Homo sapiens: one gene and its partner. The protein of the gene in region 1 interacts with the protein of each later gene in a pairwise test. Each region holds a gene or a part of one and is shown on either strand. Other genes may lie near its edges. The genes, in order: RACGAP1 and KIF23.

Region 1 (15,759 bases):
TCGTCCTAGGTTAGTGGCAGACTTGCTTTTGCTCCCAAATCTACAATAAAAAGAGAATGAACTGGAAAAATATTCTATAAAAAATGGTTGAATAAACAACTATAATATTACTTGATATAACCCATTATAAGTAGGAAACCCTAGACAACTATTTTGCAATAGTTGCTTAAGTATTCTTAGTCACCAACAACGAGAGAGGGGAAATAGTAAAGACTTTCAGAACCTTTTTAAAGAAGGAATCCTTATAGCCCCACGTTCCCTTTTAAAGTCTAGTTGCTAGCTAAAATCGAATGCAATTTTTCTTTCAATAAGCTTCAATATAATAAGAAGTCTAAGAAAGTAGTTGTTTTTTATTTCCTAGGAAGGCCAATTCTGCATACCTAGGAGTGTTCTTGGTGAGGGTGGAACGGACTCTCTGTGACAGGGAACTAGATGAAGGAGTCTTGAGAAGCTGATGTTCAGGAGTGGTCACAGGTCCCAGTAAACTCACTTCAAAGTTCAGACATATTTTTAAGAGAGGTGGGAAAAAAGAAGGCATCTTTTTAGATGGCTAGTTTTAAGCTGATTACCCTCTGAAGCACTTAAGAGCTAAGGTTAGACATCTAGCAAAGTCCCAGAGATCATTTTTGTCATCATTCTGTAACACACTAGTGTATCTTTTGAACTCAATGAATAGCTGACACGTCCTGATTTAGGCCATTCTCTAACTCCACACTTCACAAATCTAACATCTAAACATCTGACTTTTAGCTATACTAGAAGAAGCAATATGCTCCCTTAGAAGGAACTTGCAATAATGAAAGAATGGGTCTCCAATGCCAGTGAGACTGGAGTGAAACCAGCCTATTCATATAAAATTGTTGGTTAGCAATATAAATTGGCAAAAGCCTATAAGAAATTTAATAAATCAAGTTGGTAAAACATACCAAGACACATAAAAATGTTCAAGCCATTTAATTCAGTGATCCCACTCTTAGGAATTTATCATTAAGAGAAATGCTATATTGACTATAGCATTACTTGTAATTATGAAAAATTGAAAAATAATGTTAATACCTACTAGAACATTTAAGTAAATGATAAATAAGATTATACATGAGAAAAAGTTCTCACAACATGCTAAGTGAAATAAGAATGAATTATATTTAAACTATTATATATATATATATATATATATTTTTTTTTTTTTTTTTTTTTTTTTTTTAGACAGAGTCTCACTCTGTCACCAGGCTGGAGTGCAGTGGCGGGATCTCAGCTCACTGCAAATTCCGCCTCCTGGGTTCCAGCAATTCCTTGTGCCTCAGCCGCCCTGGTAGCTGGGATTACAGGCATGCGCCACCACACCCAGCTAATTTTTGTATTTTTAGTAGAGATGGGGTTTCACCATGTTGGCCAGAATGGTCTCAATCCCCTGACCTTGTGATCCGTCCGCCTCAGCCTCCCTCCCAAAGTGCTGGGACTACAGGTGTGAGCCACCATGCCCAGCCTATTATATCTATATTTAAAAAACATATATCCATATGGATAAAGAAAGGAGAACATGGAAAAGCAAAAAAAAATTACGATGGTAGAATTATACAAATTTTCCTTTAATGTTAGAATTTTCAAACAGCTCTAGCAAAGGCAGGAAGAGGTCATATGACTAAAACTAAAGAGAGAGTCAAGTCCCTGAAGAAGCACATCTTGGGCCTTACCTTTAATATCTGGTGTCTGTGGTGTTGAAAAGGCATTTGAGTTTTCAATGACATGTAGGGGGTCAATGTTCTCTTGCTCCACCATCATGAACTGACTCCAATACTCCAGAGGCAAGGAAAGCAGGCGCTCAACCACCTAAAAGCCAGCAAATCTGTTAGCAAACTTCCAAAGCTCAGGGCTTCTCAACTGTCTTTCAAGTTATCACATTACACAAGTTCACATACACACACACACGCACCTGCCTACCTTGGGTTGACGCTTGATGTCCTGTAACATTGTCACTGGGTCTGGATTGGGCACAGCATGGGCCACTATTGTAGGGCCAAAGACTTTAGCCAGATTGGCAACATCCATTTTAGTATGTGGACTCTGAGCCACTCTAAGCAAAAGAATATTAAATTAGAAGTCTTGCTCCTTGCTTAAATGCAGACCAAAATATAAATTCTATAAGAAAACAATTCATCCCTCATACTCCCAAACACTCAACCCACATTATCTTCCCCTTGGAAAAAAATTCCCTAACTCCCAGAACAAGTTTCTGCTGTACTCACCTCTGCAAGTGAATCATGAGGAAAGCTAATGTGTCCCTGTTGGCCTGGGGCAGTTCACCAACAGCTTGGTACATGGCAGCTATGCTGTTGTCTTCATCTGTGATTTCTGTAATTGAAAAGAAAGCACCAAGAGGCCTAGACTTCTTTCCCTTGACAGCGGGCTTCCAAGTTATCGACCACAAAGTCTCATCTATACAGTAAGCTTCTGAAACTCCTGATTAGTTCATGACTACATCAGACTCTAGTTTCATTAACAAGCAGGATACTGGCCAACAGCTCAATATTAGAAGTCAAAACTTTTAAAAAATCGGCCTTTGCAGTTAGGGAAAGCAGTTGGCAACTGATGTGCTAGGCAGACAGGCATACAATTGCAGTGACTACAATTACCAAGAAGGTATTCATTCATGAGACATATTTAAGGGCCTACGATGTGCCAGGTACAAGTGCTGAGGATAAAGCAGAAGTAAACAAAGCCCTTATCTTATGGAACCTACATTCTATTGGTGGAGTCAGTCAAAAAGCAAATACCTATCAGGTAGAGTGATACATAAATGAAGAAAACAAGGCAGGCAAGAAGCTAGAAAGAAATGAGAGCTGTTAATCTAGACAAGGTTGTCAGGAAAGGTGTTTCTGGGGACAAGGTATATGAAGAGAAATATGAAAGAAATAAAGGAGCAAACCATACTGTATCTAATGTAAGAGCATTCAGGTTGAGACAACAAATGTGAAGGCCTTAAGGTAGGGAGTAAACTTGGTATATTCTAAGAATTGAAAAAGCTCCAACCTAACTGGAGAGGAAGGAAAGAAAGGAAGAACACTGTACACAATAACGTAATGAGAAAGCAAGAGGATAGGCAAGGGTGACACGCATACAGTTACTCATCCATCAAACTACTTGAGCACCTACTATGTTTCAGGCATTGTACTAGGCAGGAGCTAATAAAAAGAGGAAGGTGGCCAGGTGTGGTGGCTCATGCCTGTAATCCCAGCACTTTGGGAGGACAAGGTGGGTAGATCACCTGAGGTCAGGAGTTTGAGACCAGCCTGGCTAACATGGTATAACACCGTTAACGCCTGTAATCTCAGCTACTCAGGAGGCTGAGGCAGGAGAATCGCTTGAACCCAGGAGGCGGAGTTTGCAGTGAGCCGATAGCGCCACTGCACTCCAGCCTGGGCGACAGAGAAAGACTCCGTCTTAAAAAAAAAAAAAAAAGAGGCTGGGCACGGTGGCTCACGCCTGTAATCGCAGCACTTTGGGAGGCCGAGGCAGGCAAATCACAGGGCAGGAGATCGAGACCATCCTGGCTAACATGGTGAAACCCCATCTCTACTAAAGATAGAAAACATTAACCAGGCATGGTGGCACACGCCTGTAATCCTAGCTACTCAGGAGGCTGAGGCAGGAGAATCGCTTCAACCTGGGAGACGGAGGTTGCAGTGAGCTGAGATTGCGCCACTGACTTCAGCCTGGGCGAGAGTGAGACTCTGTCTAAAAAATAAAAAATAAATAAAAAAATAAAGAGAGTAAGAAAAACTACTGCCGTGGAGGAATTCATATTCAAGTATTACATCTGCCCTTACCTGCTGCTTCCATAAAGGCTCTGTTAAGGCGAAAGGTCAGAAGAGGTTCTTTGAGGTTTCGAAGAAAGTCTTTTAGAAGGCTACAGATAGCATGGATATCATCCACTTTGCTGAGGAGGGGTACAGTTTTCACTCTGAGGAATTTCTCTTTCAGCTCTTTTACTGTGCGGTCACAGCCAGAGATCCTATACAGGCCTGTCTATTATCAAGATGACATTTTTATTTAAAAACCTCCGAATTAACACAAATAACAAATTCACCATCTCCTACAGTTGACTCTTACCTCAGTCAGACCTCTTTGCTCAATCTCATTTACACAATGCACAACAATGGAGGGGATCATTGGAGAAGTCTGGGACACAAAGTCTGCCAGCATTCCCTGGAAAAAAAAAAGAGCTTTAAATTATTATTTACGCCATGTAGACCAACAGATGAAGACCACATGCGAAGAACCACCTCCAATCTTATTCTCAAACTGGGACATCATGTCTACTTTTACATTCCTATTCCCAAAGCATATATTAAAACAGAGACTCTCAATTATTTTTCCTACCTCCACACCAGGACTGATTTATTATCATATATACCACACTTTTTCTTTTTCATATATACACCACACTGTTATGTGAACAAGGAATAAGACCACCAGCTATAATTACCTCCTTCTCATCCACTCAAGGACAGCAGAAAACAAGCAATAATGAGGTTACAGGTATAGCCTTTAATATAAAATAATTTATTACTCTAAACAGATTTTTTTTTCTAACAGAAGAAAGCTGGAACAAGAGAAAAAAATTGTGTATACTTTCATTATTCTCAGTAAAAAAAATTATTTAACATATCTTATCAGTTGATTATGACACAAACCTACCTGTAGGGGAGAACTCCATGGTTCTATATTAGAGTACAGAACATGTGTAAAAAAAATGTACAGGCGGCCAGGTGCGGTAGCTCACGCCTGTAATCCCAGCACTGTAGGAGGCCGAGGTGGGCGGATCACCTGAGGTCAGGAGTTCGAGACCTGCCTGACTAACATGGAGAAACCCTGTCTCTACTAAAAATACAAAATTAGCCAGGCATGGTGGCGCATGCCTGTAATCCCAGCTATGAGGGAGGCTGAGGCAGGAGAATCGCTTGAACCCAGGAGGTGGAGGTTGTGGTGAGTCGAGATTGCGCCATTGCACTCCAGCCTGGGCAACAAGAACAAAACTCCCTCTCAAAAACAAAACAAAACAAAACAAAACAAAACAAAATGTACAGGCATGGATAAGAACTTGTAAGATCAGGGGAAAATAATATTTGATTTGCTGAAGAGTAGGTAGGAAGATAGTCATTTTGATTCTTGCTAATGTTACTTACATAATAATTTTTTTTTTTTTTGAGATAGGGTCTTGCTCTATTCCCCAGGCTGGAGTGCAGTGGTGTGATCACAGCTCACTGCAGTTTCAACCTCCCCACCTCAAGCAATAGTCCAACCTAGCCTCCTGAGGAGCTACAAACACAGGCGCACACCACTAACCTGGCTAACTTATTTATTTATTCTTTGTAGAGATGGAGTCTTGCTTTGTTGTCCAGGCTGGTCTCAAACTCTTGGGCTCAAGTGATTTTCCTGCCTCAGCCTCCCAAAGTGCTGGGATTACAGGCATGAGCTACCACACTCAGCAATAAATAATTTCTTAATGGATTTAATCAGTTTGGATTAAACTGGTTAAATATTTGGAAATAAGCAACTTCATTTTGATAACCTATTATGAAGTATGTCTAACATAAGAGCAAGAATAAAAGATAATTTTATCACAGATAAAATTATATGATAGCTGAGATTTGCTTCCAAGTAATTCATTGGACAGAGTCAGGAGGAGGCAACGACAGTATTGATAAATCAAGAACAGACATAAAGGCTGGGTGCCATGGCTCACACCTAGAATCCCAACACTTTAGGAGGCCGAGGCAGGCGGATCACTTGAGGTCAGGAGTTCAAGACCAGCCTGGCCAACATGGCAAAACCCCGTCTCTACTAAAAATACAAAAAAATTAGTTGAGCATGGTGGCACATGGCTGTAGTCCCAGCAACTTGGGAGGCTGAGGCATGAGAATCACTTGAGCCCAGGAGACAGAGGCTGCAGTGAGCCAAAGTTGCAACACTGCAATCCAGCCTGGACAACAGGGAAACTCTGTCTCAAAAAAAAGAGAGACATTAAAAAAAGAATGGACATGACCAGGCGCGGTGGCTCACGCCTGTAGTCTCAGCACTTTGAGAGGCTGAGGTGGGCGGATCACTTGAGGTCAGGAGCTTGAGACCACCCTGGCCAACATGATGAAACCCCATCTCTACTAAAAAATACAACCAAAAAAAATTAGCCGGGCATGGTGGTGGTACATGCCTGTAATTCCAGGTACTTGGGAGGCTGAGGCAAGAAAATCGCTTGAGCCCAGGGGGGCGGAGGTTGCAGTGAGCTGACATCCTGCCAGTGCACTCCAGCCTAGGCAATAGAGCTAAAAAAAAAAAAAAAAAAAAAAAAAAAAAAAAAAAAAAAATGGACACAAGTTAGTAATCATGGAAGTTAAGTGATAAGAACCAGGGGTTAGTTATACTAATTTCTCTAGTTTTATATATGTCTGAAATTTTCCAAAATGGGATGAAGGGGAGGAAGGAAGGAAGAAGAGGCAAGGAGAAGCAGGGAAGAGCAAGAAGGAAAAAGGGGCGGGGAAAGAAGTTTGGTTTAGAAAGGTATTAGACAGACAAACCCAAACAGGACTCTTCTACAAGTAAGTATCTTACAATTCTAGTCATTATTTGTGGAAAGAAATATATTTGAGATGATTAATTTTAGAACAAAAACTGACACTAAGCCTTTGAAAGGCGAATAAAGAGGCCATAAAACAATGACGGCTTGCATAAGTCATACCTCTCCAATCTTGACAGGTGTTCCTATCAGGGTAGGAATGCAGGGAAGGGGACAGCGGTCCCGACATTCTGGATGAGAGACCACACGACAGTCTCGACACTTCAGAGATAATTTGCCAAATTTTATCCGCTTTCCACATGGAACACAGGATTCAGGTTTAATAACCTGGGATAAAACAGGGCAGAAGGAACAGAGTGATATGAATTAGAAAATTATCATCATAATCAACTAACTTTTTTTTTTTTTTTTTTTTGAGACCGAATCTCACTCTCTCGCCTGGGCTGGAGTGCAGTGGTGTGATTTCAGCTCACTGCAACCTCTGCCTCCCAGGTTCAAGCGATTCTCCTGTCTCAGCCTCCCGAGTAACTGGGATTACAGGTGCCCACCACTACGCCCAGCTAATTTTTCGTATTTTTAGTAGAGACAGGGTTTCACCATGTTGGCCAGGCTGGTCTCGAACTCCTGACCTTGTGATTCACCCACCTCGACCTCCCAAAGTGCTGGGATTACAGGCGTGAGCCACTGGGCCTGGCCTTTTTTTGTCTTTTTTTGAGACAGAGTTTCGCTCTTGTTGCCCAGGCTGGAGTGCAATGGCGTGGTAGAGGTTGGCTCACTGCAACCTCCACCTCCCGGGTTCAAGCGATTCTCCTGCCTCAGCCTCCCAAGTAGCTGGGATTACAGGCATGCGCCACCACGCCCGGCTAATTTTTATATTGTTAGTAGAGACGGGGTTTCTCCATGTTGGTCAGGCTGGTCTCGAACTCCCGACCTCAGGTGATCTGCCTGCGTCAGTCTCCCTAAGTGCTGGGATTACAGGCGTGAGCCACTGTGCCCAGCCATAATCAACTAACATTTATTGAGCACTTAGTATGTGCCAAAAAATTTTCTAAGCCCTTTAGACATATTTACATATGTAATTCTCACAGTAATCCCATAAAATAGGTTTTGTTTTCTTCATTTTAAGATGAGGAAACAGAAGCAAAGAGAGTTTAAGTAACTTGTTTAAGGTCATCCCACTGGAAGGCAGCAGTGTGTGATAGTGGAAAGAACTTGTTTACAAAGAGCAGAAAACTTGGATGTTGGCAGGGCATGGTGGCTCACGCCTGTAATCCCAGCACTTTGGGAGGCTGAGGCGGGAGGATCACCTGAGGTCAGTAGTTTGAGACCAGCCTGGCCAACATGGTGAAACCCCATCTCTACTAAAAGTACAAAAAATTGGCCGGGCATGGTGGTGGGCACCTGTAATCCCAGCTACTCGGGAGGCTGAGGCAGGAGGATTGCTTGAACCCGGGAGGCAGAGGTTGCAGTGAGCCGAAATCGCACCACTGCACTCCAGCCTGGGCAACAGAGTGAGACTCTGTCTCAAGAAAAAAAAAGAAAAAAAGAAAACCTGGATGTGAAATCTGTCACTTACTATCATGTGGCTCAAAAATGTCAGTTAACTCCTCTGAGCCTCAGTTAATTTGCTTGGATTTTTATAAGGAAATAAAATGGTACAAAAGCAAAACATTTTGAAAATCTTAGGTGATATATTCAAGAAAAAATGTAAACATGTGTCACTAAAAAGTACTAACAATGGGCCAGGCACAGTAGCTCATGCCTGTAATCCCAGGACTTTGGGAGCTGAGGCAGGGGGAGCACTTGAGCCCAGGAGTTCAGGACCAGCCTGAGCAACATAGCAAGACCAAGTCTCTACAAAAAATTTAAAAATTAGCCGGGCGTGGTGGCACACATCTGTATCCCTACTACTCAGGAGGCTGAGGCAGGAGGATTGCTTGAGACTGGGAGGTTAAGGCTACAGTGAGCTATGATTACACCCCTGCACTCCAGCCTGGGTGACAGAGTAAGACTCTGTCTCAAATTAAAAAAAAAAAAGTACTAACAATTGCTTCAGAAAAGTTGGTCTCTTTAATTTAGTATTACTCACAGAATGGAAAGAAACTTACCTCTGTAACCAATAGTTACTTCTGGAGAGTAAAATTGGAATGAGGAAGGAAATTTGACATTTAACTTTATAACACTAAAGTATTTAACTTTATTCCTGGTATTTATTACTTTCACAATTAAAAAATTAAAACACAAACAACAATCACAGATTTACCGTCTTAGAAACAAAGTCATGCAGGCGCATCCCTCCATTACTCTGTGGCGTGCCCACACTGTCTGTCTCAGTTCTTGGCTCCAGCTGCCTGCTGTTCAGGGTGGAGTCACTGTTCCAAGGTTGTAAAGTACCTAGAAAACAAGCAACTTTTAAGCTTTGTGTCTTAAGTATTTTGCTCCTTCTAAATTTTAGCTCCAATTTTAACTGGGAGATAAACAGTAATCTGTTATCATAGCCAAAAGTGAGAACTAATGGCTATGTAAAAAAACAGTTTCAAGAAAAACTAAAGTTATGCCAGTGGGCTAGCAATTCAAAGGTAAAGCATGACACAAGCAGTTCTCTGGTCCTCGGTATGCAGCAGTAAGAAACTACCCAATACATCCAATCCCCGCCTCCAGAGGGTTCTAAGAAACCAACTCTCCAAAATTTTGCTAGTTGTTTTACACAGGCCAGTTTAGTCACAAATTCAATGGACCTGTTTTCCTTCGGCTCCTGGTCCAATATGGCACAGTCTCAATAGTGGACACAGCTTCGATGGGCCCGCCATCATTGGGAACAGTCACTGTAGTTTTTGCAACTATGGATTCATTCCCCTGCAACAAAAGTAGTAATGAGGAAAGACAAACAAAGAATCTAACTTACCCTCCACTATAGGGTATTTTGGAGCAGGTAAAAAATTCCTTAGTCTTAGTCAAGACTTAAGACCCCAGTCTGATACTTTTTTTTTGAGACAGAGTTTTTCACTCTACCGCCCAGGCTGGAGAACAGTGGCGTGATCTCGGCTCACTGCAACCTCCGCCTCCCAGGTTCAAGGCATTCTCCTGCCTCAGCCTTCTGAGTAGCTGGGATTACAAGCATGCGCCACCACACCTGACTGATTTTTTTTTTTTTGAGACGGAGTCTCGCTGTGTCGCCCACGCTGGAGTACAGTGGCCCAATATCGGCTGACTGCAAGCTCCACCTCCCGGGTTCACGCCATTCTCCTGCCTCAGCCTCCCGAGTAGCTGGGACTACAGGCGTCTGCCACCATGCCCAGCTAATTTTTTGTATTTTTAGTAGAGATGGGGTTTCACTGTGTTAGCCAGGATGGTCTCAATCTCCTGACCTCGTGATCCACCCGCCTCAGCCTCCCAAAGTGCTAGGATTACAGGCGTGAGCCACCGCGCCTGGCCGACTGATTTTTGTATTTTTAGTAGAGACGGGATTTCGCCATGTTGACCAGGCTGGTCTCGAACTCCTGACCTCAGGTGATCATCCACCTGCCTAGGCCTCCCAAAGTGCAGGGATTACAGGCGTGAGCCACCACGCCTGACCTGAAACATTCTTATGTTGAAATCTGATGTTTGGCTGGGTGCAGTGGCTCATGCCTGCAATCCCAGCATTTTGGGAGGCCAAGGTGGGAAGATCACTTGAGCCCCGCAGTTCGAGTCATCCTGGGCAGCAAGGAGAGACTCCCCCTCTACTTTAAAAAGTAAAAATAAAGAAATCTCGTACCTAAGAAGATAAACATAGGTCATGGGGGTATATATTCAAGCAACTAAGACTCACTCTGACAGTTGTTTACTACATCAGAGTAATTCCATTCATAGGGATAAGGATCCTACTGCATAGAAAAACTTTAACCAAAGGCCAGGCACGGAGGCTCACGCCTGTAATCCCAGCACTTTGGGAGGCTGAGGCAGGTAGATCACCTGGTCAGGAGTTCGAGACCAGCCTGACCAATATGATGAAACCCTGTCTCTACTAAAAATACAAAAATTAGCCAGACGTGGTGGCATGCGCCTGTAATCCCAGCTACGTGGGAGGCTGAGACAAGAGAATCACTTGAACCTGGAAGGTGGAGGTTACAGTGAGCCAAGATGGTGCCATTGCACTCCAGCCTGGGCTACAAGAACAAAACTCTGTCTCAAAAAACAAACAAAAACTTTAACTAAACATCATGTCTCTCAAAACAATGCTGCAATGCTGACTCAGAGAAGTTTTAATGCTTGGGGCCAGTAATCTCTGTTACCTTGGCCTGACTATTCTTACCTGGTCTACTGCAGAGCCAATGGAACGAGTTTTCTTTACAGGTCCAGGGGGACCATCAACAAACTGTCGGCTAGTAGAGCGCTAGAAAGGAGACAAAGACCCGTAACTTTAATGCCAAGCAGATCTGAAGCACAGAAGATAAAATTATTCCATCAAACAACTTGGATACAGGTCCTGGGGATTAGGGCTACAGTAAATAACAAACAATGTGTTCTCTCTCTCTCTCTCTTTGCCTATTTCCACATGAAGAATAAGCTGTTTCAAAAGAATATGTTGTACAAAAATGCTCTCAGTGCCCTAGAAAAAATGAGCAAGCTATGGAGAAATTTAGATGACACCACCAGAAAAAGTACAGCTGTAATCCTAACTAAGGACATGAAGTCTTGGAAACACATTAAGTACCCTAAACAAGCATACACAGATAGATCTCTATATATCCCATTATATGAAGCTTATATTAGAGCACAAAAGTTCTGTGTAAAAATTCATATGACAATTCAAAACAAACTTAAGTTTATCCTTTTCCACTGTATGAATGAATTGAAATGCAGCCTAAACAGTGAAATGGACAGGATTCTGTCCTAAGTTACTACTTCAAAGAGTACCAGTACTGGTTGGGAGCAGTGGCTCACGCCTGTAATCCCAGCACTTTGGGAGGCCGAGGCAGGTGGATCACCTGAGGTCAGGAGTTCAAGACCAGCCTGGCCAACATGGTGAAACCCCGTTTCTACTAAAAATACAAAAATTAGCCAGGCATGGTGGCAGGCACCTGTATCCCAGCTGCTTGGGAGGCCGACGCAGGAGAATTGCTTGAACCCGGGAGGCGGACGTTGCGTTCAGCCGAGATCGCGCCATTGCACTCCAGCCTGGGAAATGAGCAAAACTCCGTCTCAAAAAAAAGAAAAAAAAAAAAAAAAAAGAATATCAATACTGTCCCCACAGCATGAATTCATCTGTAGTATGTGCTTAACAATGGCTAGAGCAACATGACAGGAATGCAGTATCATGGCAAAATTTCCAAAAATAACTCCATTATTACTTTGTTTTAAAAAAAGACTAAACAAATCATACATACCCTCTTTTCTCTCTTCTTCAGTTTGAAAGTCTTCACCAAAGAAGAGTCCCAATCCTGTTGACAATTACACTGTATTAATTTCTTTTTTTGGTTAGGCCATCCCTAAACCCTGTGCAAATAAATTTACAGAGAACTTTAAAGGCTTCTTCAGTCAGGCTACCTAACGTACAATTCGGGGAGGGTTAGAGAAGGGAAGGTCTCAAGTGTTGTAGCTATAGAGCTATAGTAAGTTAATGTGCTTTCTTTGAAAAATTGAAGCTATTATAATAAAATCAGGAATCAATACCACAGAGGCAAGAAGAGGTTAAAGAATCAAATTCTGCCATATTTCCAGTGGCTGATCCTTTATTTCTGATTATTTTTGTAATTAGTTTTAGAACTTACAGAATGTTAGGCACTATACTGATTGTATTAGATGTGATTCTTGCCCCCAAGGGATTGCCACTGTCTAATCAAATGCTCTGCATAATATTGCCACTTCACAAGTTCCACAGTTGCCAGGCGATGGCTCATGCCTGTAATCCCAGCACTTTGAGAGGCCAAGGTGGGCGGATCATGAGGTCAGGATATCGAGACCATCCTGGCTAACACGGTGAAACCCCGTCTCTACTAAAAAAATACAAAAAAATTAGCCAGGCGTGGTGGCGGGCGCCTGCAGTCCCAGCTACTCTGGAGGCTGAGGCAGGAGAATGGCATAAACCCGGGAGGCGGAGCTTGCAGTGAGCTGAGATTGCGCCACTGCATTCTAGCCTGGGTGACAGAGTGAGACTCTGTCTCAAAAAAAAAAAAAAAAAAAAAGTTCTACAGTTTAGGAACTTAGGCCCTAAAACGTGTCCACCACTGAAGAACTATTTGTCTTTTATTGTGGTCTCATTTCAATTCACCTATTTTAACTATTTGCATTCATTTTAGTAGTTACCTGTGATTTCCTTACTCCTGATCATCCCTGAAAACAGTATCTAGAAACAGTGGTATACAGCAAATAATAGCTTAGCTAAATAAATTTAACTTCCCCAAGTCATGGTCCAGTAATTTAGTTACTGGTTGTTTGATTCAGCTTCAGTTACAAGAAATATCGTATCATAGGTCTAGCTCAAAAATCAACTGATAATATGATCTAGTTTTATTATATATTCCAGACCTCCACTATATCATTCCCTATTTGAGAAAGGTGATGCCTAATATTTTTATCTATAAAATGGCCGTATTTTCCCTGGTCAAACACTGAATCTGAACAGAAAACTCCTAGCCATGTAACAAATAGTTGTCACCTGTTTTGCTATACCAGAAAACCAGTCACCAAAAACTTCCTGATTTGTTTTGTTTGCTAGTTTTCAGCTAGTAACAGAAAAGATGCACAAATCAATGAACTATATCAAAGACTGTATCAGGAGATGACCTTTTATGCAGAAGCATCACTGTAAGTTAAAAGAAGTGTGCCGCCCCATAAAAGCAGGGCAACAAATAGTTTAACATGTTAACCATTGTTGATGAAAGCATTATATAGTGCCTAGAAACTCTAATCACACTTTTCTGGCTGAAATCCCAGGACCTTGGTTTCCTTCTAATTGTGAAGTATGACTATGCTTTCCCCAAGAACCAAACTAATTCAGAAATAAGGCACAAGTCTATTTAAGAGCAGCAAATAAACCCTGACGACATACAGTCTTGCTAATATTTTTATTATTAGCTGGGGCTTTAATAAGTCAAAATATAATCAGTTAGTACATGTGGCACACAGAGATCTATTAAATGAACTCAACTTATGCCAAATTCTGAATTATATATTCTCACTTCAGAAACTAATATATAAGCCAGCCTCTTATAGCTCATGTGGATTTATATTTTAAATTGCTAGCTCAGAATCTATAACACATCAACTAATAAAATAGTAATATAGGATGTTCAGAAGAGAAGACAGGAGAGATATTCCTGGGGAAGCAGAGGTAAGAAAAGTAGGTAATTCTCAGAGATCAAATGTTTATTACCAGTGATTCATCAGTCTTGTCAAAGCTGATATCTGATAAAATGGAACCAGATTCATCAATGGTTGATAGTCTAGATCAGTGAAACAATACAACGTTAGACATGGTAGACTGTGGAATGTAAAATTCACCAACATTCAGAACAAGTCCTACTGGTCAGGTAACATCAGTTAATTTCATAGCAAAATCTTCACTATAGAGACAATTACAATCTCAAACCCTGTGGTAGGCTACTTTGTATGGTTTCCACGGAGGAGTGTGTGTGCATGAGTACAGGTGCAACACAGTTGCTTTTTCAGCAAAGACCTTATAAGGGCAGTTGAAAGTTAGTCAGGGTTATGGGTGCTATTCTCTACCGAGTTTGTATTACAGGCTACTCCAAATTCACAAAATCAAGGGAATGAAGTTTAATTTGATCCCAACTGTGCTGGTTTCTACAAACAAGAGTATTACCCAACACTGACTTTTTAAGAAATTAAGCCTGTACATCTTCTTAGTTATAAAGATTCCCCATAAAACAACCAGGCAACAAAATAAATAGCTGACCTTTCCCTACATATTGTACTGGGGATGTTAAATTCAAAGCCTGGTTGAGACTATTTTAAACAGTGGTGCAGTGGAACCAAAATTATTGTCTGGTCTTGGCTCACAGAGGCCTTTCTAAACCAGAAGAGCTGTAAGAGCTCTCTGGAGAGTAAACACTGAAAGTATTGCTGAACTGCCACTTTCACCTTTGGGTTTCTTAGCAATGCACAGGATTAGTTATTGATGTGCAATTTAGCACCAACATCAAAATTGTATCCATGGTGAAACAACATCCTTAGGAAAGATTTAAAAATAAAATAAAATAAAATATACAGGGACATCCCTGTGCCTTTATTCCCCACCTACTCTCCCCACAAAATCTTTTTCTGCTTTTTTCAGCACACATTCTAGAAGAAGTATATTTAAGAATTCAGATAACAAGAATATCTGACAGCCTGTGTTGCTTGTGATAGGATAACAACAGATGCAGTTCCTCCACCTTTTGTTCCCAGCATTGCTGCTGGATGGTTGGCCTCTGTTGAGAAAAGCCAGAGCTGATTTTTGCTCCTCGCTTAGTTGAATGCTGCCAGATGTGTCACACATGAGCATCTCTCGAATCAGCTGAATCTGTCGTTCCTACAGACCAAAGCAAAGTAAAACATCATAACTAGCCAGGGGAGAAAGCTTCACCTCAAGTTTATGGGACAGGCAGACCAGAAGACATTAAAATGCAGCATTATGCAAATGGACCTTCAGGAAGGCTGCTACACCAATAGCATATTAATTCACATCAAACCCAGATTGTGTCTCTGATTTCTGACTGGTAAAATGAACTACATCTAGAACAGCGAAGTTTCTGCTACAAGACTTTTGGATTAACCTGCTAATCCAAGAGGAGAATAATGCAAAATGAGAGTCCCAAAATAGATTTCACATAGCAAAAACACTTTAGTGTCATTTTATCAGGACAAATATTGGCTTCTACGGATCAAAGCAGCCACCCACCTCTCAAAGTAGTGGAGCAAAATGCATTAAAATGGATACAAAGCTATAATGCACTGGAACCAGACAATTTGAGTTTACTGAGGCATCTAACACTGTATACCAAGATGGATTAGTCCCTCCCAGTAAAGGCTTTCCTTTGCATTATGACCCATCCTGGCACATCAAAATGATAGTGTTCTGTGTCAGTCACATTGCTCAACTGGTTGAATACATCTAGCCTTTTACCCTGAATTAGAGAGGGGTGATGAAAAGAAGAGTCACAGTTGTCTTGCCTGTATGTATGACAAAGTACCAGCTACTC
Region 2 (15,759 bases), on another chromosome or scaffold:
CAAAGACAGAAGTGATATAGAATCAGTTCATCTAAGGCAAGAGTAGGTTCAAAAGGTTGCCCCTTAAGGGTAAGGACCAAATTTTATTCATCTCCGTAAGGCCAGGATCAAACACAATCAAGATTTGATAAAACAGGCCGGGCGCAGTGGCTCACGCCTGTAATCCCAGCACTTTGGGAGGCCAAGGTAGGCAGATCACCTTAAGTCAGGAGTTCTAGACCACCCTGGCCAATATGGTGAAACCTCATCTCTACTAAAAATACAAAAATTAGCTGGGCGTGGTGGTGCGCGCCTGTAATCCCAGCTACTCGGGAGGCTGAGGCAAGAGAATTGCTTGAACCTAGGAGGTGGAGGTTGCAGTGAGCTGAAGACTGCAGTCCAGGCTGGGCGACAGAGCAACTCCACCTCAAAAAATAAAAAAGGAAAAAAAAAAGATTTGATAAAATAATGTACATATAGGACAGAGCTGGAGGGAAACCCAGGAAAGGTGAATCAGAGAGAGAAAAGACGCCAAGATAATGTGGTGACTTGGGAGCCAGAGAGACGGAGCCTGAGACTTGGAGCAGGGCACAGCACAGGAATACAACACTTTTCACCAGAACGACATTCCGACCTCTGAATCAACCCTGGAAAGGCCCTTCCATTGAACTTCTTGTGATGGAGGAAAAGAAACCCTCAGTTTCGTCATCGCAAGGCGGAAGAGTTTAAATACCATACCTCAAGATCTCCCTCCAGCCCTGACACGCGACTCCGCGGCCCTTTCAGCGTCGGTCGCCTAGGAGACAAGCGCCACTTCCGGCAGCGAAGTCACTTCCGCGGAGGTCCTGCCTCTCCCTGCGGACGGGCGCTGATTGGCCCGTTTGAAATGCGCCAGGCGGGAGCTCACCTGGGCTCTTAGCGTCGCCGCCGGCTTCGCAGAGCACCGCGCCTTAGCCGCGAAGTTCTAGTTCTTGCTGCCGGTCCTAACGTCCCGCAGTCTTCGCCAGCCAGCCGTCCCGCATGCGCGTTTGGGCGGCGTGGAGCCTGCTGCCATGAAGTCAGCGTGAGTACGAGGCCGCCGAGCAGGGAGAGAGGGCGGACGGGGGCCGAGGCCTCGGGGCTGGGGGCAGGCGTCTCCACTCAGGCCGCGGCCGTACGCGGGCAGCGCGGACAGCATCCCGCCCGGTGCTGCTGCGGCCGCGACCCCAAAGTGGGAACCTCCACGTGTGGCCGCTCCGCGGGAGCCTGGGCGCGGAGACCCCTGCCGCGTCGCCCCCCGCCGCCCCGCCTGGGCCTCCAAGGGGCCAGGAAGGGTCGGCCCGGAGCCGGGGTTGTTTTACGCCGCACCCGGTTCCCGGGGGCGGGGCAGTCCTCCTCGGGGTCCCGGGACAGCCTTTCCCTTCTCCCTCGCTGGCTGCCGCCGCCTCCAGAGTGCAGTTGGCCAACTTAGTGCGGGTCGGAGGTGGTCTCGTGTGTGGAGCAGAGCGAGTGTGCTGGGCATTGGTTAGATGGGCTCCGTTTCTGGAGAGCCCTGGCACCGGTGATCGCCGCTAGCTTTTTTTTCAGCCGAGCACCCTGTCCTTGAGGCCGAGCCCATCCGCTTACACAGGCCAGTTACTTCTGCTGTATTTTGTGGCCGCAGAGAACCTCCGCCCACATTCCTAAGCTAATATTTTCGGCGCAGCATCATTCCTGGGTAAAGAAATATTTGTCGTGCAAAGGAGAGGATTGGCTTTATTACCATTTAGGGAGTCGTTTGCAAAAGACAACTTGTTTATTAAGAGGCCGAAGTCAAAATCTTTAGATGAAAAAAATTATATATAAGAAATATACGTTGAGTTTAACTTAAGCCCACCACAAAGTATTTTGCACTGAATAACACGAATTTGCTTGTGTTTCATCTGAGAATATGTTTGGAAAAATATTTTTAAACTACAGTCGAAGCCAATAATCTTACTTAATTTTAATGTGTTAAATGTATATCTAGCCTATAGATAAATGTGAAGGGAAAAAGATGAGATGCTAGAGAAATGGTGAAATCAATCAAAATAACTTTTTGATTGCCCCTACTTAAGAAACCAAGAAATTGGCAGTTTGGGACCAGATTTTGTTTGGAGACAAAGAGTAATGTTTTGAGCATTCAATGACTGGTTGTTCCTTGAAAGTACAGGCGTAACCCTTGACGAAAGAATGGTTTCCTCCATGTGCATTTTTATAGTGTATTGAAGTTAATCGCTTGTCAGTCTGTAAAGTGTGGGCAGTTATAATTTGTAGTGCCTCTGTTAAATTGTTGCTCAAGAAAATATGCAAGCCATTTTAAGTATAGAACTAATCAGAGAATAAGTAGGTAGCTTTGGTACCAAAAATGTATTCTAAAGCAAATTTTAATTACTTTTGGATTACGCATGCCACAAACACTCTGCTACTATGATTATTAATGTTATTTGGGATGCAGTGTTTTGCAACTGCTAAGGGATAATTTACAGATAACCTAGAAAGATTGTATAAGTTTTAGGTGAGGCTTTTGTATTCGTGTTGAACTGAAAAAAAAGTTATTATTATTTTTTAATCTATGACCAGGAGAGCTAAGACACCCCGGAAACCTACCGTGAAAAAAGGGTCCCAAACGAACCTTAAAGACCCAGTTGGGGTAAGGTATCCCTGTAAATTTATGTGTGGTGTTTAAGAAACTTATCTCTTCAGTCCTTTCTGTCTTATGTGTATGCTTGGAAGGGAAAGAAGAAGACATGTGGAAGTATAATCAAAGAACATTTAGTTAAATGGATGTACTACATTGTGTAAAACTAGTGCTAGCTGTGAAATTTTCTCTATAAGATTAATTAAATTAGTCCAGTAAAATGAAGTCTTTGGTTGTCAACTGCATACCTTCTGTAATTATAATTTGGAGAGTTAGATAATTAAAAATCTCCAACTGGGTTCATATTCATCCCAGAGAATATGAACTGAGTTCATGCCATACAGTAACTGATGGCATGAGGAGAGTTCCAAACTTCTTGGGACCAAGTTTAATTCAGTTAAATTATGAAGAAAAAATGAAGCAGGCAAAAAGAATAAGAATTTTAAAACAAAACAACAAATGGCAAACAAAAAGGGTTCTTTGCTCTGAGGTATTTTAAATCTATCCCTCGTTGCCACTGGAGTGGGTCCCTGGCTCTGAGTTAAGGGAACCGGGTGCTTTGCACACAGCTGAATGAGTTTTCCTCAAGCCCCCTCCCCTGCTTTCAAAAATGTCTCTGTAGGCTGGGTGCGGTGGCTCACATCTGTAATCCCAGCACTTTGGGAGGCTGAGGCGGGTGGATCACCTGAGGTCAGGAGTTCGAGACCAGCCTGGCCAACATGGCGAAACCCTGTCTCTACTAAAATTACAAAAATTAGCTGGGTGTGGTGGTGGGTGCCTGTAATCCCAGCTACTCGGGAGGCTGAGGCAGGAGAATTGCTTGAACCCAGGAGGTTGCAGTGAGCTGAGATCATGCCATTGCACTCCAGCCTGGGTGACAAGAGAGAAACTCTGTCTCTAAATAAATAAATAAATAAAAATGTCTTTGTATATTAAATGTTGGGTTAAGCTGACAAGTTTTTAAATTGACATCCATTTCCAAGAAATTCTAACAGTTTTAAAAATCTCGTGTGACATGTTGTTGACTTTTAGAGATATTAGTAGTAGTATAACTATTATTTGTGTACAATATAATAGTGAATACACTGCAATTTGATTTTTATTAAAATTTATTTTAATTTTGTGTGTATTTAAAGTATTCTCATATCTAATACATACTTGTATTTGTCAATCTCAAGTAGCAGATTTTAATTTTCTTAGCCCTTGGAGATACAGAGCTCTTAAATTGAGAGACTGAATGTTTGTTGAATGAATGAATGAATGAGAAGCTTAAGTGAAAAATCAGGCAAAAGGTCGAACTTTCTTCTTAAAGCACCTTCCTATTTCTTCAGGTATACTGTAGGGTGCGCCCACTGGGCTTTCCTGATCAAGAGTGTTGCATAGAAGTGATCAATAATACAACTGTTCAGCTTCATACTCCTGAGGGCTACAGACTCAACCGAAATGGAGACTATAAGGAGGTAATTCTGATTTGGACCAAGTTGTTTTTACTCAATATGTTGTTTCCTGAATGACTTCTAGATTTTTAGATGTAACAAAGTTCATTTGTGAGCCCACATTTTCAAAAGACTTATTTACTTCATTATAACCACTGTATCTAAAGTGTTTTTGACTTCTGGGATGCACAGACATACCTTTGGTATGCTGGGGTTAGAGGATTGCTTTTAGCAGATAATTTCTTACACTGAGTATTATTGTTTCTTAGAGCATGTGTTAGGGATGATTTAATGTGGAATGATACATGATTGTGCTAGGCAGTTTTATATATACAACTTGATGTGTGGAAATGAAAATAACATTTAATAATAGACATTGTTTACTTGCATCAACCTCCTATGCAGTGTTTTTATTTTTAGTAAAGTTTTGAGTCAGCTCAAAAATATTGTTTAGCAAATGTGCTAAGCTAATAGTTGGAGGGTGGAAGGAGATTAAAAAAAAGAGCATGACATACTCCTTGCCTTTAGAAAGTTTATAACTTAAGATATATGGTAAACAAATAATTCTCATATAAATAAGACAGAAAGTTAGATGTGCTAAAGATGAGGGGACCGTGGGAATGCAGTAGGATTAATTCAGGCTACCATTTCTACTTCTAGCTGTCACTCACTCTTTTGTGCCTACTATTCCTGTGAAATTGCTCTTCAGAAGACTACCAGTGGCCTCTTTGCTGCTAAATTTGATGTATACCTCTTCATCCTCATTTTAACCTGTTTGTCAGCAGCACTCTCCTGTCTCCCCCTCCAGCTCTCCTTGTATCTCCAGCTGAAACCTTTTCTCTGGCTCTCAACATTCAACCACTTACTTGATATCTCTGCTTGGATGTCACATGTGCATCTCAAATTTTACATGCCCAAAAAGGAGTTCTTGATTTTTCTTATTCCCTCTCTAAATACTTCCTCCCTTGTTTTCTTCTCAAGGAATGGCACTATCGTGTGTCCAGTTGCTCAAGCCAGAAACCTGGTACCTACCTTTTACTTGCCTCTCCTTATAACTAGTTCATTAGTAGCTCCTATCAGTTATATTCCAACATGTGTCTTGAAACTGTCCTTTCATTTCCATCTCCACTGCCACCACCCTAGTCTGAGCCCCATTATTAATCACTGAGACCAGAGCTACTGTAATGAAGGAGTAGCTTTTTTATTTTTAATGCGTCACAGCTGAGACTTTTGTACAACTTGTGCTAGATGGAACTGCCCGTGTGAGTTAGACAATAGGGAACTAGTTCATAATCTCTTCATAGAGATGAGCCTATTGAATACATGCTGAAATACTGATAATTGAGCAGTGCCAGATGGAGGCTCATGCCTGCAGTCTCAGCACTTTGGGAGGCCAAGGTGGGTGGATCACCTGAGGTCAGGAGTTCAAGACCAGCCTGACCAATATGATGAAACCCTGTCTCTACTAAAAATACAAAAATTAGCCGGGCATGATGACGTGTGCCTGTAATCCCAGCTACTCAGTAGCCTGAGACAGGAGAATCACTTGAACCCAGGAGGCGGAGGTTGCAGTGAGCCGAGATCGCGCCATTGCACTCCAGCTTGGGCAACAAGAGTGAAACTCCATCTCAAAAAACAAACAAACAAAGAAACAAACAAACAAAAAACAACTTTCTAAACATTTAAGTAGTCTGGTAACCAATCTCAGACTGGCATTGGTTTGCTGAGTGTGCTTTGGGTATCATTGACAAGACTTCCAAAGCCCAACTGCCTCCACTTGGAATCTTCTCTAATCCATTTCTACAGAGCAGACAGTGATCTTTTAAAACATAAAATCTCATTTTCCTGTTCAAAACCTTTCAAAGAATAAAATCTTTGAACAGACAAAATCCTGCTTCATCCGTCTCCCATCTGTCTCTCCACCTTCATTCATCTTTTAGTATTCATCCAATCCTTTGAGTTTCTTGGATAAGGCAGAATCCTGGCTGTTAGCTGTTGCCTTAACCTGGACTTCTCTTTTTCTGGGTCTTAGCATGGGTCATCGTTGGGTTTCAGCTTAAATATCACCTCCTCGGGTTGTATAGACTACCCAATCAGAAACAGCACCCCACAACCCCTCTCCCCTGGTCTGTACTCTGTATGCCTCCTTTACATTACTTAACCACAATCTATTTGTTTACTTGTTTATTGTCTTTCCTCTACCATAATGTAAACTTCCAGGGAATATGTACCTTATATGTTCTGTTCATCAAATAGTAAATATGGCTTCAGCAAGAATGAATGGTCTGGGAGGGTTTTTTGGAGGAGCAGGTCTTTAAGGATATAATATAGTTAAACACTGATTTACTGAGTTTTACTTCTTTAAGTAAATTTCAAGTATGTATAAATATAGGTATCGAGTAGGTATCGAGTAGGTATAAAAAGGTTTGATGGGGATTAAAAATAGTCACTGCTTTCTGACAGAAGGCAACATTGTATAATGAAAAGAGCATTGCTGCCGGGCATGATGGTTTACATGTGTAATCCCAGCACTTTGGGAGGCCGAGGCAGAGGGATTACTTGAGATCAGGAGTTCGAGACTAGCTTGGCCAACATGGCGAAACCCCATCACTACTAAAAATACAAAAATTACCCAGCGTGGAGGCATGCGCCTGTAATCACAGCTACTCGGGAGGCTGAGGCAGGAGTATTGCTTGAACCCAGGAGGCAGAGGTTGCAGTGAGCCGAGATCCTACCACTGCACTCCAGCCTGGGTGACAGAGTGAGACTCTGTTTCAAAAAAAAAAAGAAGAAAACAAAAACATTGCACTGATGATGGCTTTGATACTAATTAACTCCATGGGCTCAGAGAAGTTTCACCTTCGGGCCTCAGTTTTCTTTACCTTGAAAGGAGGGAGTCATTCATGAGGACTGTGAGGTCATCTATCTTCTCAGTATTAGCCTATGTGTATCCTTTCAGTTCCAAGATTCTTTGTTCTTTTTGAACTCTAAAGCTGATTTTTACAGGATATTTTATTAATTGTATTTAGAGAGCCTTGATAATTGAAGTATTCTTGCTTTCTTAAAGGTCACAATTTATTTAAAATGTATTTCATGTAAGAACTCAGAGATGAGATAATATTTACAGTTTACTTCTGGTTTTAAACTATAGTACATCAAAACGTGGTATTATGCTGCTATGCCATTTTATTTTATATGTCTTTTTTCTTTTTCTTTTTTGAGACAGGGTCTCACTTGTTGCCCAGGCTGGTGTGCAATGGTGTGACCACAGCTCACTGTTTTTTGGTGAGGTTTTTTTGTTGTTTTTACTTTTAAAATTTTTTATTAGATGAGCTTGCCCAGGCTGGTCTCTTAACTCATGGCCTCAAGTGATCCTCCTGCCTCAGCCTTCCAAAGTGGGATTATAAGTGTGAGCCACTATGCCCATGCTTTGCTATTTTAAATGACACCTTTATAAAGAAAAACTAGGAAACAGTAAAGTTGTGTATGACATAATGCTTGTAGATTTCCACAAATCTGTGACTATGAATCGTTACAATACCTTTTGATCTCTGTCACTTAATTAAAACAAAATCAGCCTTAGATTAGAAGCATTAGTAGACTTAAGACTTTTCTACATTTTTGGCCAGGTGTGGTGGCTCACGCCTGTAATCCCAGCACTTTGGAAGGCTGAGGTGGGTGGATCACCTAAGATCAGGAGTTTGACACCAGCCTAACATGGTGAAACCCGTCTCTACTAAAAATATAAAAATTAGCCAGGTGTGGTGGCACGTGCCTGTAATTCCAGCTACTTGGGAGGCTGAGGCAGGGGAATCGCTTGAACCCAGGAGGCAGAGGTTGCAGTGAGCCGAGATTGTGTCATTGCACTCCAGCCTGGGCAACAAGAGCAAAACTCTGTCTCAAAAAAAAAGAGTTTTCTACATTTTCTTTAGTAGTTGTGACTGAAAACGTTTACCAGTTTATAATTGGTATGATATAGGTATGTCATGACTTTTTAGTAACTAAATAACTAAGGGTTCCAACTGTAAAAAGACCATTTATATTTTTTCTTTGCATGCTTAGATCTTAAATGTCATAAACACCTTAAGTTTAAGGAGATGTATTTTTAGCCTAGATAATAGTGGAATTCTATTTAGTGCATTTTTTTCTCTCTCCACAGACTCAGTATTCATTTAAACAAGTATTTGGCACTCACACCACCCAGAAGGAACTCTTTGATGTTGTGGCTAATCCCTTGGTCAATGACCTCATTCATGGCAAAAATGGTATGATATGACTCTTGGAGTTTTGTTAGATTTTCCTTTTTCTCCTCTTCTGATAAAACTTTTTTGATATTTATATATTTGATTTATGTTTGGTGTTGAATCCATATTTAATTTGTTAGGGTGGTGCTAAACTTGCCTTTTTTGAGCTGGCTAATTGTTAGTGTTTTCTAATGCAGTGAAGAAATACTCTAAGTGGAGAACTTCTAAGATATAACTCATTGTGACTTGCTACACTGTAGGTCTTCTTTTTACATATGGTGTGACGGGAAGTGGAAAAACTCACACAATGACTGGTTCTCCAGGGGAAGGAGGGCTGCTTCCTCGTTGTTTGGACATGATCTTTAACAGTATAGGGTCATTTCAAGCTAAACGATATGTAAGTATGATTCTTTTGTGTTGTGACTATCTTACTGGACTAAGACACCTATGGATACAGTAGTAGTAAAGAAGAACCAAAGCACTGGATTCATTTTGAAACCTTAACTGTTCCTTAGTTTTTAAACATATTTCTTACTATTTAAGTTAAATTCTAAAAAACGTGGTGTGATTTTTTTTTTTTTGCCCCCACTTCAGGTTTTCAAATCTAATGATAGGAATAGTATGGATATACAGTGTGAGGTTGATGCCTTATTAGAACGTCAGAAAAGAGAAGCTATGCCCAATCCAAAGACTTCTTCTAGCAAGTAAGTAATTATATTTGTCTGCAGCACTGGCCTAGGGGCACAGGATTCTTTCCTGTGGTTTGCCCAGACATGAGGAATGGTGAACATTAAATAGAGAAGTTGACTTTTGTGAGATTAAAGTTAAGGAATGTTCTTAAGTTCTTTGCTCAGATGTTTTCTCTTTGGCTTTGAGCACATTTTGTTTCAATCACTGTTTTAAGAGGGTGCCACTCTGGATGGGGAGAGGGTATAAAAGCCATTGTTGTGTGTTCGGGAGGACGTGGGAATACTGTTGGCAAACCATGAGTATGAATAAAGCTGCTTTGTGCATTTCTGCTTGTAATTGCAGATATTTATTTTATCTGTTAGTTTCCCCTTGGGATCAGTTACTTTTTTTTTTTTTTGAGACAGAGTCTCACTTTGCTGCCCAGGGTGGAGTGCAGTGGCATGATCTCGGCTCACTGCAACCTCTGCCTTCCAGGTTCAAACGATCCTCCTGCCTCAGCCCCCCTAGTAGCTGGGATTAGAGGCACACGCCACCATGCCCGGCTAATTTGTATTTTTAGTAGAGACGGGGTTTCACCATGTTGGCCAGGCTGGTCTTGAGTTCCTGATCTCAGGTGATCCGCCTGCCTCGGCCTCCCAAAGTGCTGGGATTATAGCTGTGAGCCACCATGCCCGGCTGGGATCATTTACTTTTAAAATGGACTTATAACGTATACAATTGAACTTTTCTTTTTTTAGACGACAAGTAGATCCAGAGTTTGCAGATATGATAACTGTACAAGAATTCTGCAAAGCAGAAGAGGTTGATGAAGATAGTGTCTATGGTGTATTTGTCTCTTATATTGAAATATATAATAATTACATATATGATCTATTGGAAGAGGTGCCGTTTGATCCCATAAAACCCAAGTAAGTAATAAAGAGAGCCCCTTCTTAGCTGTTAATGTTGGGGAAGTTACTTTGCCTCAAGGAGTTTTAGTTTCTTCAGTTATGAAAGAGAATAATGCTTGCATTTGTTTTCAGAATGAAATGATATAATTTGTATATCACGTGGTTTTGTGTTTGAGTATGTTTATTATTAACTAGATATGTACCTGTATTAGGGAACTAGTGGGTTAAAGCATCTAAGGAGAAGAGGGACCCAAATATTCATCTTGGAGATTACTTTTGAAAACTCTGGGCCCTGGGCTATGTTTTGAGAAGGATCTTAATTATATAATTAAGAACGTTTCAAGAACCTGAGACAGTAAAAGGAGTTTTGTAGGCTCTTTAACCACCCGTGTCTTGGTGATTTCTACAGACTGGAGCCTAAAGCTGTTATCTATACAAGTAATACTTACATATCTTCTATCATTCATTAATATGGTATGATATCTGCACTGTAATTCCATCAGAGTTGAAATACTACTTCCTAGATTTCCTTGGGTCTTGCCTTTCTGAGACGTAAGACTGGTTACCACTTGGCATCACAAATGATAAATCTGCATTTGTGCCAGAGTTGACCCTGGGATCTTATGTTTAATATTAGTATCTTGTTCCTGAGTTGATGGTTTTGTTTTTCAGCTAAAGGCTTGTCTTTAATGCTGTCTTTATTAGGGCCTCTCAGGACATAAATAATACGAAGACCTGTGGCTTATATTTAACTTTGTATATCTAAGGGAACATTATTGGAGAAACAGCTGGATTTAGAAAATCATTAGACTGAGAATACATACCAGTATATCCACTTTTAATTACATGAAGAATTTATGGACTCTGGTTGAGGCCATACTTGATACAAGCATTTCTGTGGTTCTTAGTGAGTCACATTTTGATACAGTTATCTTCACCAGAGTCCTTGAATTTTCATCACGTTTATTGGGAAAACAATTACAATATGGCTAAGTAAGCTAAATGTAAAAATATTAACACTCTTAATACTAAGAGTTTATGCCAAGGAAGACTCTTTGGCTCTGTTTAACATTTCTTCAAGTGAGAACTTTACAAAGGGACTTATTTCTGGAGTGACCTATCTATATTTACCCTTGGAATGTTGGTAATAGTAAAAATACTTGGGTTAGGTTGTGGAGCAATACATGGAAGAGTTAAAACCTTGTGAGACAGTTACTTTTTATTTATTTTTGAGACAGGGTCTTGCTCTGCCATGTCAGCTCACTGCAGCCAACCTCCTGGGTTCAGGTGATCCTCCCGCCTTAGCCTCCTAAGTAGCTGGAACTACAAGCACAAGCCACCATGCCTGGCTAATTTTCTAATTTCTTGTAGAGATAGGAGTGATAGGGGTCTCACTAGGTTGCCCAGGTTGGTCTCGAACTCCTGGCCTCAAGCAGTCCTCCCACCTTGGTCTCCCAAAGTGCTGGGATTACAAGTGTGAGCCACCATGCCTGGCCTGACCATCACTTTTTATATCAAACTAATTACTTTCCCATTTGTTTTAAAGTGTCAACTGTCTTGACTCTAATCTTGAGTATACCCATTTTCATGTATGCTCGTGTGCCAACTTTTTGTTTGGTTTGTTCTAAATGAGATTATTTTCAAAGGATCATATCTTGGCTTTATTTAGTTATACAAAAGAAGATTGACAAAAGTACCTTGTGTGCTTTGTAACCTTTCTGGGTAACTCCTTAAATGAACATACAAGGGTGCTTGTTTGGCCCTGAATTCAGATTTAATTTGTTAGGTTGGTGTTAGACCTGCTTTTTTAAGCTAGTTAACTTTTAGTACTTTTAATACAATGAAAAACTATTACAAGTGGAGGGTTTTTAAGATATGACTCATTGTGATTGTCACATAGTCTGGACTGAACATGTTGGTGTGAGATGGCTGCTGTAGAAACAGTAACTTCTACCTTATTCCTTTGGTAGGTGGAACAGTTGCAGCACACCCATGAGGAACACAGATTTTGTGTATGTGATGGTGTTGGCTCTTTTCTTAAGGAGAAGGGTGCAGTTATACTATGGTTGGCATTCTGTGGCATGTTTGCATGTAGGTTATTTTCCATTGTCACTGGGCTGGCTGCTGTCTCTAAGCCCTCCTTGCTTCCTGAAAAATCTGCTATTGACTATCAGTGATGGTGGCTGGTAAATGTCTCTACCCTCACCATTCACAAGACTTAAGACCAAACAGGTAGCTCTCATACCCAACCTTCATCTTGTCATACAGACTAAAACTTCATAAGCCACTTTGAAAGGATTGCCACTCCTGGTATATACCAAACTCTTTCTGAATTTGTTTTCTGCTGTTGCTGAGGAGGTCAGAACTGGTTCTATCTGCTAGTCTTTTCAAATTAGGAAAATACTAGATTTTGATGCTTAACCTGTGCATGTGATGTTGCTGTAATACTACTTTGGTCTCTAAATTGTTTAGTGTATTGTTTCATGTGCTTTCTTAGAGCAAATTAGAGCAAAGCTTTTAAAACAAAATTGGTTTCTGTTATCTTGTTACTTAACTAATCTTGACTATTTAGCTTTACAATCTTATCTAAGTTTAATATTTCTCTGGAGTATTATACGTTATATATATATTATAAAATATATATAATTTTCATTAGAAGAATAACATGTCATGTCACTTGGCGTTTTAGTCCTAGTCTTAAATGAAGATACCAGCATCTCATAATTTAGGAGACTAATCTTTTTTTTCTTTCCCATAGACCTCCACAATCTAAATTGCTTCGTGAAGATAAGAACCATAACATGTATGTTGCAGGATGTACAGAAGTTGAAGTGAAATCTACTGAGGAGGCTTTTGAAGTTTTCTGGAGAGGTTAGAAACACCTAGAACTAGAAAAATACAGAATGATGAATATCACCTAGAGTTGCTACTAAGTTTGATGGCAATTTTTTTTGACTTATTAGAAAGCATGTATAATGAAATGACTGAGTTCAGGTTTGACCAATGATTTCTCTGTTGTCCTAGGCCAGAAAAAGAGACGTATTGCTAATACCCATTTGAATCGTGAGTCCAGCCGTTCCCATAGCGTGTTCAACATTAAATTAGTTCAGGCTCCCTTGGATGCAGATGGAGACAATGTCTTACAGGTAAAGTTGTAGTATGTGGAGTTTTTCTGGTTCTAACTCTATCCTTAATTTTTGGAATTAGAGTAATCCAGCCAACATGGCAAAAACCTGTCTCGAGTAAAATTGGAAAAATCAGCCAGGCATGGTGATGCACCACTCCTGTAATCCCAGCTACTTGTGTACCTGAGGCAGGAGGATCGCTTGAACCTGGGAGGCAGAGGTACAGTGAACTGAGATCGCGCCACTGTAGTCCAGCCTGGGTGACAGAGTGAGACCCTGTCTTGAAAAAAAAAGTTAAATTAGAGAGGTTTTATTGCAATGAAGATTGCTCTAGAATAAATATACAGTTGGTTCTCTGTATCTGTGAGTTCTACATCTATAGATTCAACCAACTGTGGATTGAAAATATTCGAAAATAAAATGCTGCATTTGTGCTGACCATGTACAGACTTTTTTTGGTCATTATTCCTTAAACAATACAGTATAACAACTTGTTACATAGTGTTTACATTGTATTAGATATTATAAGTACTCTAAATATGATTTAAAATATACAGGAGGGCTGGGTGCGTGCGTGGCTCATGCCTGTAATCCCAGTGCTTTGGGAGGCCAAGGCAGGAGGATCACTTGAGGCCAGGAGTTTGAGACCAGCCTGGACAACAAAACAAGACTCTTGTCTTTGCAAAAAAATAAAATAAGGCTAAAAAATAAAAAAATAAAAAAATAGAACTTTAAAAAGTGTATGGGAGGATGTGCATAGGTCATATGAAAATACTACACCATTTTATACACAAGATTTGAGCATCCATGGAATTTGGTATCTGTGAAATTTAGTATCCATAGGAGATCCTACAACTAATCCCTCGAGGACACCAAGGGATGACTCTGTATGTAGGCGATGACATTAAAACTTTTTTTTCCCCATTATTATAGTTTTGGGAAGCTGGATATCGAATCTTAGAGCCTGAATTTTGCTGTGAAAAAAGTTTGCAAATCTTTAAAAATCCCTTTGGTAGAAGTGATAAAATAAGACTGTGATTTTTTCTCTCTGGCGACTCCTTCTGTAAGTGGAAATTCAGTTAGTGGTTTTAAAATGTCAGTAATTCATTTTTCAGGGTAGGTATAGTTTAGGAAGTGGCTAGTGTTATAAGTTGTTCATCTCTTGGTCGATAGGCCAGTAGGGTCCCCCATATGCAGATCACTATTTACTGCCTGGCCTGCCACAGTACAAGGCTTGTGTCAATTAGTAACAGCATTTGAGTCTGAGTATACATAATCTAATAACTGTAATCCATTAAAGTGTAATTTTATTCAAACTGTATCATGAAATTGTGGCATTATGAAGATTTATAAGTGGCAGGAGTGGTATTGAAGACCTCCAGGATTTGAATGCTCATTTCTATTTATTTACCGACTAGCTATAATAAAACCTCCTTATAAGGTTGTGAGAATTAAAGGAGGTAATGCGTGTAAAGTTCTTAGTCCAGTGCTTAGCTTATAGTCAGCCCTCAATAACCGTTAGCTAGAAAATAGTTATAAGGGCCAGGCGCAGTGACTCACGCCTGTAATCCCAGCACTTTGGGAGGCCAAGACGGGTGGATCATGAGGTCGGGAGATTGAGACCATCCTGGCCAACATGGCGAAACCCCGTCTCTACTAAAAATACAAAAATTAGCAGGGCATAGTGGCGCATGCCTGTAGTCCCAGCTACTCGGGACTGAGGCAGGAGAATTGTTTGAACCAGGGAGGTGGAGGTTGTAGTGAGCCAAGATTGCGCCACTGCACTCCAGCCTGGCGACAGAGTGAGACTCTGTCTAAAAAAAAAAAATGGTTATAAGTCAGCCTTCCATATGCACCTGATTTCCATTGAATCACATCTAATATTACAGCATTAGTTCGGTACCACTTGACTTTCACTTCTTTTTATAAGAATTATTTGCTGGGCGTGGTGGCTCACCCCTGTAATCCCAAGCACTTTGGGAGGCTGAGGCGGGCGGATCAACTGAGGTCAGGAGTTCGAGACCAGCCTGGTCCACATGGTGAAACCCTGTCTCTACCAAAAATACAAAAAAAATGAGCTGGGCATGGTGGCACACGCCTGTAATCCCAGTTACTCGGAAGGCTGAGGCAAGAGAACCGCTTGAACCCAGGAGGGGGAGGTTGTAGTGAGCAGAGATGGCGCCACTGCAATCCAGCCGGGAGGTAGAGCGAGACTCTGTCTCCCAAAAAAAAAAAAAAAAAAAAAAAAACAAAAGAATTATTTATAGCATTATGAAATTATAAGATTATTAAATATCTGATTATAGAAGAATTTAGGATAATCCTGTTCTAGACTCTTATTCAGCAAATATCTGCTGAGTTCCTACTCAGTGGTAGGCACTGTGCAGCATGCTGGTGATAAGGTAGTAAAAGACAGAGTCCCTGCTCTCAGGGGGCTTACTGTCTGATGCAGAAGGAAGACCAGCCAATTGACAAGTAATCATTAATGTCATGAGTATATTTATCATACTCTTCTAGCAAACTCTCCCCTAAAATAGGTATCCTTTGCCTGTCCTGTGCATTTTGTACTGTGCAAATGTTCATTAAGACTTAGCTTGTTGATATGAATCTATTTAAAGAACATTATAAACCAGTTATAACCCATTTTAAGTTATTGGCTTTGTGATCTTTTTAGGAAAAAGAACAAATCACTATAAGTCAGTTGTCCTTGGTAGATCTTGCTGGAAGTGAAAGAACTAACCGGACCAGAGCAGAAGG

The links.
Region 2: the proteins of RACGAP1 (region 1) and KIF23 interact in a two-hybrid assay, tested with the Homo sapiens proteins (one study listed by IntAct).

The regions. Positions count from the first base shown.
Region 1 is NC_000012.12:49,990,304-50,006,062, forward strand, and holds part of RACGAP1 (rac GTPase-activating protein 1), read right to left. Parts: intron 15,090-15,759; coding exon 14,953-15,089; intron 14,002-14,952; coding exon 13,932-14,001; intron 11,998-13,931; coding exon 11,944-11,997; intron 10,950-11,943; coding exon 10,869-10,949; intron 9,431-10,868; coding exon 9,313-9,430; intron 8,969-9,312; coding exon 8,838-8,968; intron 6,902-8,837; coding exon 6,737-6,901; intron 4,207-6,736; coding exon 4,111-4,206; intron 4,027-4,110; coding exon 3,828-4,026; intron 2,353-3,827; coding exon 2,247-2,352; intron 2,075-2,246; coding exon 1,942-2,074; intron 1,831-1,941; coding exon 1,695-1,830; intron 490-1,694; coding exon 381-489; intron 41-380; coding exon 1-40.
Region 2 is NC_000015.10:69,413,435-69,429,193, forward strand, and holds the start of KIF23 (kinesin-like protein KIF23), read left to right. Parts: upstream 1-914; 5' UTR 915-1,031; coding exon 1,032-1,042; exon of another isoform or gene 1,043-1,675; intron 1,676-2,559; coding exon 2,560-2,629; intron 2,630-3,948; coding exon 3,949-4,077; intron 4,078-8,212; coding exon 8,213-8,318; intron 8,319-8,557; coding exon 8,558-8,694; intron 8,695-8,891; coding exon 8,892-9,001; intron 9,002-9,724; coding exon 9,725-9,895; intron 9,896-11,847; coding exon 11,848-11,889; intron 11,890-12,635; coding exon 12,636-12,748; intron 12,749-12,901; coding exon 12,902-13,023; exon of another isoform or gene 13,024-13,222; intron 13,223-15,676; coding exon 15,677-15,759.